Linked DNA regions of Homo sapiens. The protein of the gene in region 1 interacts with the protein of each later gene in a pairwise test. Each region holds a gene or a part of one and is shown on either strand. Other genes may lie near its edges.

Region 1 (3,500 bases):
TGAAAAGTGCAGGTGACAGCCTTCATTAAGGACACATTTACTCACCTGAATGAACAAGCAGTGGGACCCTTTATACCCAGTCACTTGGGCTTGAGAAATAGCTGGATTCTCCCCAGGGAGGCTGTCCTCCTCCCCCTCCCCCACTTCCCTGATTTAAGGTTGAAGATGGCTGGAATGCACCCCACCTATGAAGAGCAGTGGACATGGCTGGGGGTAGAGCCAGAACAAGCACTCAAAAGAACACAGGCCAAACAGGAGACTCGGGGCAGCCAAGTGGAACCAGAACAGGACATAAAGTGAGCGTGTACATCCAACAGCCATGAGTAATATCAAAAAGGTTGTAGCCTGGCCAGCACGGCGAAACCCCATCTCTACAAAAAATACAAAAAGTAGCTGGGCATGGCAGCATGCACCTGTAATCCCAGCTACTTGGGAGGCTGAGGCAGGAGAATCACTTGAACCCGGGGGCCAGAGGTTGCAGTGAGCTGAGATCGTGCCACTGCACTCCAGCCAGGGTGACAGAACAAGAACCTGTCTCAAAAAAAAAAATAAAACAGGTTGTAACCCATCCTCCAAGATACCCCCCATACATCTAAAACAATTAGATTAAACACTCAACAAAGTAAACATGTTTCTGTCCTCTGTCTCATGTCTCTCAGGCAGCAGGGCTTCCCATGTATTTTATGCTAGCAGGCACTGTCCCACACCCACCTGAAGCCACGGGTGTCTTAAGGCTTCTTCTGTCGTAAAACGTGCCTTTGGATCCACTACCAACAACTTCTTGACAAGGTCCAGAGCTAAAGCAACAATTGGGCAAATCACAGTGAAAAGGATAAATATATTATCAGTAAGAGTATGCCAGAATTAACAGGCCACCATTCAGAAAGAGCAGAGAGGGTCTGAGATCATCACGGAGTCAGCAGACAGGGCCCCCTAATCTTCCTCACTCTCTGTATTCAGAGTACTGTGAGAAGACCAGGAATGATAATGACACTCCCTGTCTCCTGCTGCTGGGACGTCAGTCACGACCTCTTCACTGCCTGTTCCCTCTCTTGTTGCTAGACTCAAGGTCGGACTAATTAAAGCTAAACTTCTACCCAATTCTAAGATACTTGGGATGCACAGCAAACTCTCTCTGACATCTACAGATGGATAGGTGACAGTTACTCAGCGAGGGAGAGGCTCCCTGGAACTGCAGACTTGTCAGAAATAAAACTTGGCTACTCCAGCAAGCAACAAATGCACGCTGGCCTGTATATTACAACATTATTATTCCTTAAATATTCTGACATTTAACACAATCACCTATGTTATGTTATTTGACATTTAATTTTCTACTTTCTCTTCAGGGAACTAAAGTTGCCAGGATAAATTATAAAATACAAGGTAACTAATGACATCTAGTTTTTACATGCTTGCTTACTCAAAGGAAACCTTGTAACTAAAAAGTTACAAGTGCATTTATTTTGCTCACTAAAATAGGTACCAGGCACTTGTGTACATGATACTTAACCCTCACAAAAACCTTTTAAGGTAGGGTTTATTGAGGGTCCCTTTACACAGAAAGAAATTGGAGATGGAGGTTAAATAACTTGCCTAAGGCCACACAGCTAAGTAGTAGCAGACCCAGGACCTGAGTGCATGCTCTTAATAATTTCCAGTGCCTCTCAAATGGTGTGAAACTAACAATAGAAAATAAGAACAGAATTGACAGGAGAAAACACCATGGAATTTGGGAAGAAACTCCCACCACAGCACATACACATTTTAGCATACCACAAATTCTTAACCCTTTCATATTCATACCTTTCTCTGAGACTTCTGCCCAGACTTCAGGAATGAAGTTGTATTTTCCACTGGTGATCTGATCCTTCAGTGACACTTGAGTCCTATGCTCAGAGAAAGGTGGATACCCACTAAGGCTTAATATTGGTAGAGAGAGAAAGGAAAAGAAATCAAGTGGCATTCTCAGTGGCATTCAGATATAAAGATTTCTTTTTCAGCATAATGAAAAGTCAGATTTTTCTTTAAATCAATGGTCAAAAAGTGAGCTAGGCTGGGCACAATGCCTTAGGCTTGTAATCCCAGCACTTTGGGAGGCCGAGGCAGGAGGATCACTTGAGCCCAGGAGTTCGAGACCAGCCTGGGCAACATGGCAAAACCCCATCACTACAAAAAATAGAAAAATTAGCTGGGCATGGTGGTGTGCATCTGTAGTCCCAGCTACTCGGGAGGCTGAGGTGGGAGGATCACTTGACCCAGGAGGCAGAGGCTACAGTTAGCCAAGATCAAGCCACTGCATGCCAGCCTGGACAACAGAGCAAGACACATTTGTGACTTCATCTAATCACCTCCTACCAGTCTGTGCAGCAATGAAAATATTTCTTACCAGATAAAAAGAATAACTCCTAAACTCCAGCAGTCCACAGCACGGTTATACCCAGCAGTCCCAACAGAAACAAGAACTTCAGGCGCCAAGTAGGTGGGGGTTCCACATAAGGTTCTCATGAGAGAGGTCTCTCCCAAAATCTTGGAGTGCCCAAAATCAGTAATCTAAAATTCAGTACAAAAGGGAATAATGTTGAACTTGCCATAAAATAAAAAGATTAACATAGTCTGCCAGTCCAAGAAGACACGTAGGCTAGATCAGTTTCTATTGTACAATTCACACCTGCCATTAATCTGGAATTTACAGATTCATGTCTTTGCAAGTTAGGACATTTAATTTTGCTTAAATTAAAATTCCTGAGCCTAGGAATCTCAACACTCAGGCTTTCCAACTTAACCTATGTCCTCTGTAATCTTACAAAAAGCTTATTATCTTTATCACAGACACTTCAGGATTCTAATTAGTTCTACATGGTTCTTAGACCCCAGTGTCTCAAACTTGGCTGCGCTATGGAATACCTGGGGAGCTTGGAAACACATGCTTATACCTGAGTGCCACTCTCAGCTTCTGAGGTAAAGCCTGGGTGTCATAAATCCTAACAAGAGATTCTAAAGTGATGCCAGACTTGAGAAACAGGGAAAGGCAGCGCATGTGATTACTCATTCATTCATTCACCTATTCTGAGATGATGTCTGGCCCTTTTGCACAGGCTGGAGTGCAGTGGTGCGATCTCAGCTCACTGCAACTTCTGCCTCCCAGGTTCAAGTGATTCTCGTGTCTCAGCCTCCCAAGTAGCTGGGATTACAGACACCCACCACCATGCCCAGCTAAATTTTTGTATTTTTTGCCATGTTGGCCAGGTTGGTCTCAAACTCCTGACCTCAGGTGATCTGCCCACCTCGGCCTCCCAAAGTGCTGGGATTACAGGTGTGAGCCACCATACCCAGCCCACTCGTCCATTTAGACCCCTCCTCTCTCTCTAAGCACAAAGGTCACTTGTACACAACAGAGCTCAATAAATGCTCATTCGAATCTGGATAAGAGCAGTATCACCTGATCTCTAAAATAATTGGTAACAGTGAAAGGGTCAGATTCTCATCCTTTTTACGCT
Region 2 (2,514 bases), on another chromosome or scaffold:
TGGCATCCCACACACCAGTCTGATGCCACATCTGTTCTCTTACCAACCACTGGCACCTGCATCCCTTATGCCAACAGTGCCGTGCCACTATGTTCACCCATTTTCTGTAATTATGTGGCAAATACGTTCCCTTCATCTGGAACTCTGAAGCCACTTAAGATGCAACACAGATTCCCGGTGGGCTACTAAACAGACTGCCCAGTGTAGACTCCATAATGAGTGTGGTTTCCAACAATTTTTGCATGGATTCTGAAAAATCACTATGTATTGAAAATTTATGTTCATAAGTCATTTTTCATGAACACTGATAGTTCAGCAATAACTGATTTTCACAAAGTAGATGCAGGGTTTTCAGTCACTAAATGAATTCAACAAAATGTTTACTGTGCAATACAAAGGTGATGCACGCTAATATTCTCAGAGAAATTATAGGAAACTGAGTAGCTTGAATTTGGACCAAAAATGTCAGAAAAAAGGTATTCAAGTGGAAAAAAATCCAGTGAACTCTAATAGATGGTTTATTGGAAACGCTCATAGCATCTTTTGAAAAGAACTTGACAGGTTTTATTTTAATAAGACATAGTGAAGAGGAAATGGCTTAAAAGATATCATCAATCTTTTATTTAACTAAGCACTGCCCTTCATTTTGAAGGAAATGATACAATTTCAAATCGGAACTTCCTTCTCAAGAAGTGATATAAGAATGTAACATTGATTTAACATACAACCTTCAACAAAAATAAAGTTTATACAACTCACTGGGAAATAAAATGCATGTGGAATTTATCCTGTTTGTCAACATAATTCTTCATGAGTCACAAGTATTATAGCCAAGAACAAAACAACAAAAAGCTGAATCAGTTGATAGTTACTCTGATTTAAAAAACATTTCACAAATAAGATGTAGCTTTCCAAACAAATCCATTCGATGACCATTATCACAACTATATTTTATTCTAATTTATAAAACAAAAAATGGTTAGACAAGCACATGATATCAAGAGTCTTCAACACAGTGGATTCCATTTTATTAAGAAAAAAAATAGAAAACAAGTAGTCCTTAAATTGTCTTAGCTCTCCATAGCATACGTTATATAAAATTAAAGTTTTGCTTCCAAAAATATGTTTCCATGTGGTCGTGGTGTTGTCCAGTGCTATTAGGGCCAAAGCACCAAAGACATGAGAAGTTTAACCATCGACTTGTCATTTTTCATAAAAACTAAACATTTCCTTATAGGTCTGGAGTAAAATCTTCTAGGCATTTTAGTGCTAAAAGTCACTTTAAATTAAATGTGAAATAAAAGCTACAAAAAGTATGAGTTCTTTCAATACAAAAAGTTGTGTAGCTGAAGTTGTGGGCTCCTTTGACATACATAAGCAGTTTCAATAAAATATTTGCTCAGGTAAGAAAATAGAAATTTGTCTGCTTTCATTTAGCATACGTTCCAGTCGATGTCCTGCTTATCCCTGCCAGAACTTCTGAAGAACATTAGAATCGATATTTCTTTCCTTCAAAGAGCATCCGTAATTCACAGTACAAAACAGTTCTACAGTCTTATTCCTAAGGAGAAACAAAAATTATTAAATATGTTTATTTTTTCTAAAGTGTCAAATGTAGCCACTGCCAGGGCATTAAAAACTCACTTATCCACAACACTGCCGTCTTCAGGAAAGAACCAAGAGTTGATTCATTCCCCTTTCCTGGAGCTGTTACTAGTTGGTTGTTGCTTTAAGTGTAATAACCCTAAGAAAATTCCCAATAAAAATCACTGTTCTTAAGTGTCACATATTTCACACCTCTGGTACCCTGTAGAAACGCTTGTATTACATGGGAAAGCAGCATCTGAAAAGATCTATTTCCTATTCTAGTTCATTTCCAAGCCCTGTTATTGAAAACCTCTTCTCTAGAAGAGAGAGTCACTGCTCTCTCTTAACACAGTCGCTGCTATACTTCAGCGTGACTGACCATACATCATTTTCCATTCTGGGACAGAGGAAGAAGACGGGTGGGGGAGTTGATCTGGCTAGCCCAGAGCTGGACAGTGCCATTCTATTCTTCCCTCCCACTTGTCTACACGGTGGTTATTACTACTTGCTCTGCTGCCCAGGCTGGAGTGCAGTGGTGCGATCTCGGCTCACTGCAACCTCTGCTTCCCAGCTTCAAGCAATTCTTCTGCCTCAGGCTCCCAAGTAGCAGGCATTACAGGCGCCTGCCACCACGCCCAGCTAATTTTCTGTATTTGTGGTAGAGACAGGGTTTCGCCATGTTGGCCAGGCTGGTCTCGAACTCCTAACTTCAGGTGATCTACCTGCCTCAGCCTCCCAAAGTGCTGGGATTACAGGCATGAGCCACTGTGCCCGGCCTACCTTCTATTTTCACTACTGTGTTAAGCATGAAAGAAAATCCAACTGGGTTAGATACAGCAGGTTCTCCTAAATGTCTTAACCCATGTTTATCTTGTTCTGCTATTCCATGAGCAAAGAGAATAAACACAAAGCTGTGAGAGTATTAAA

Evidence for each region.
Region 2: the proteins of CHEK2 (region 1) and LRATD2 interact in binary tests that used the Homo sapiens proteins (3 or more experiments, as listed by UniProt).

Annotation. Positions count from the first base shown.
Region 1 is NC_000022.11:28,693,321-28,696,820, forward strand, and holds part of CHEK2 (serine/threonine-protein kinase Chk2), read right to left. Parts: intron 2,554-3,500; coding exon 2,390-2,553; intron 1,923-2,389; coding exon 1,807-1,922; intron 798-1,806; coding exon 712-797; intron 1-711. UniProt on the Homo sapiens protein: Serine/threonine-protein kinase which is required for checkpoint-mediated cell cycle arrest, activation of DNA repair and apoptosis in response to the presence of DNA double-strand breaks.
Region 2 is NC_000008.11:126,551,943-126,554,456, forward strand, and holds the end of LRATD2 (protein LRATD2), read right to left. Parts: 3' UTR 501-2,514; downstream 1-500.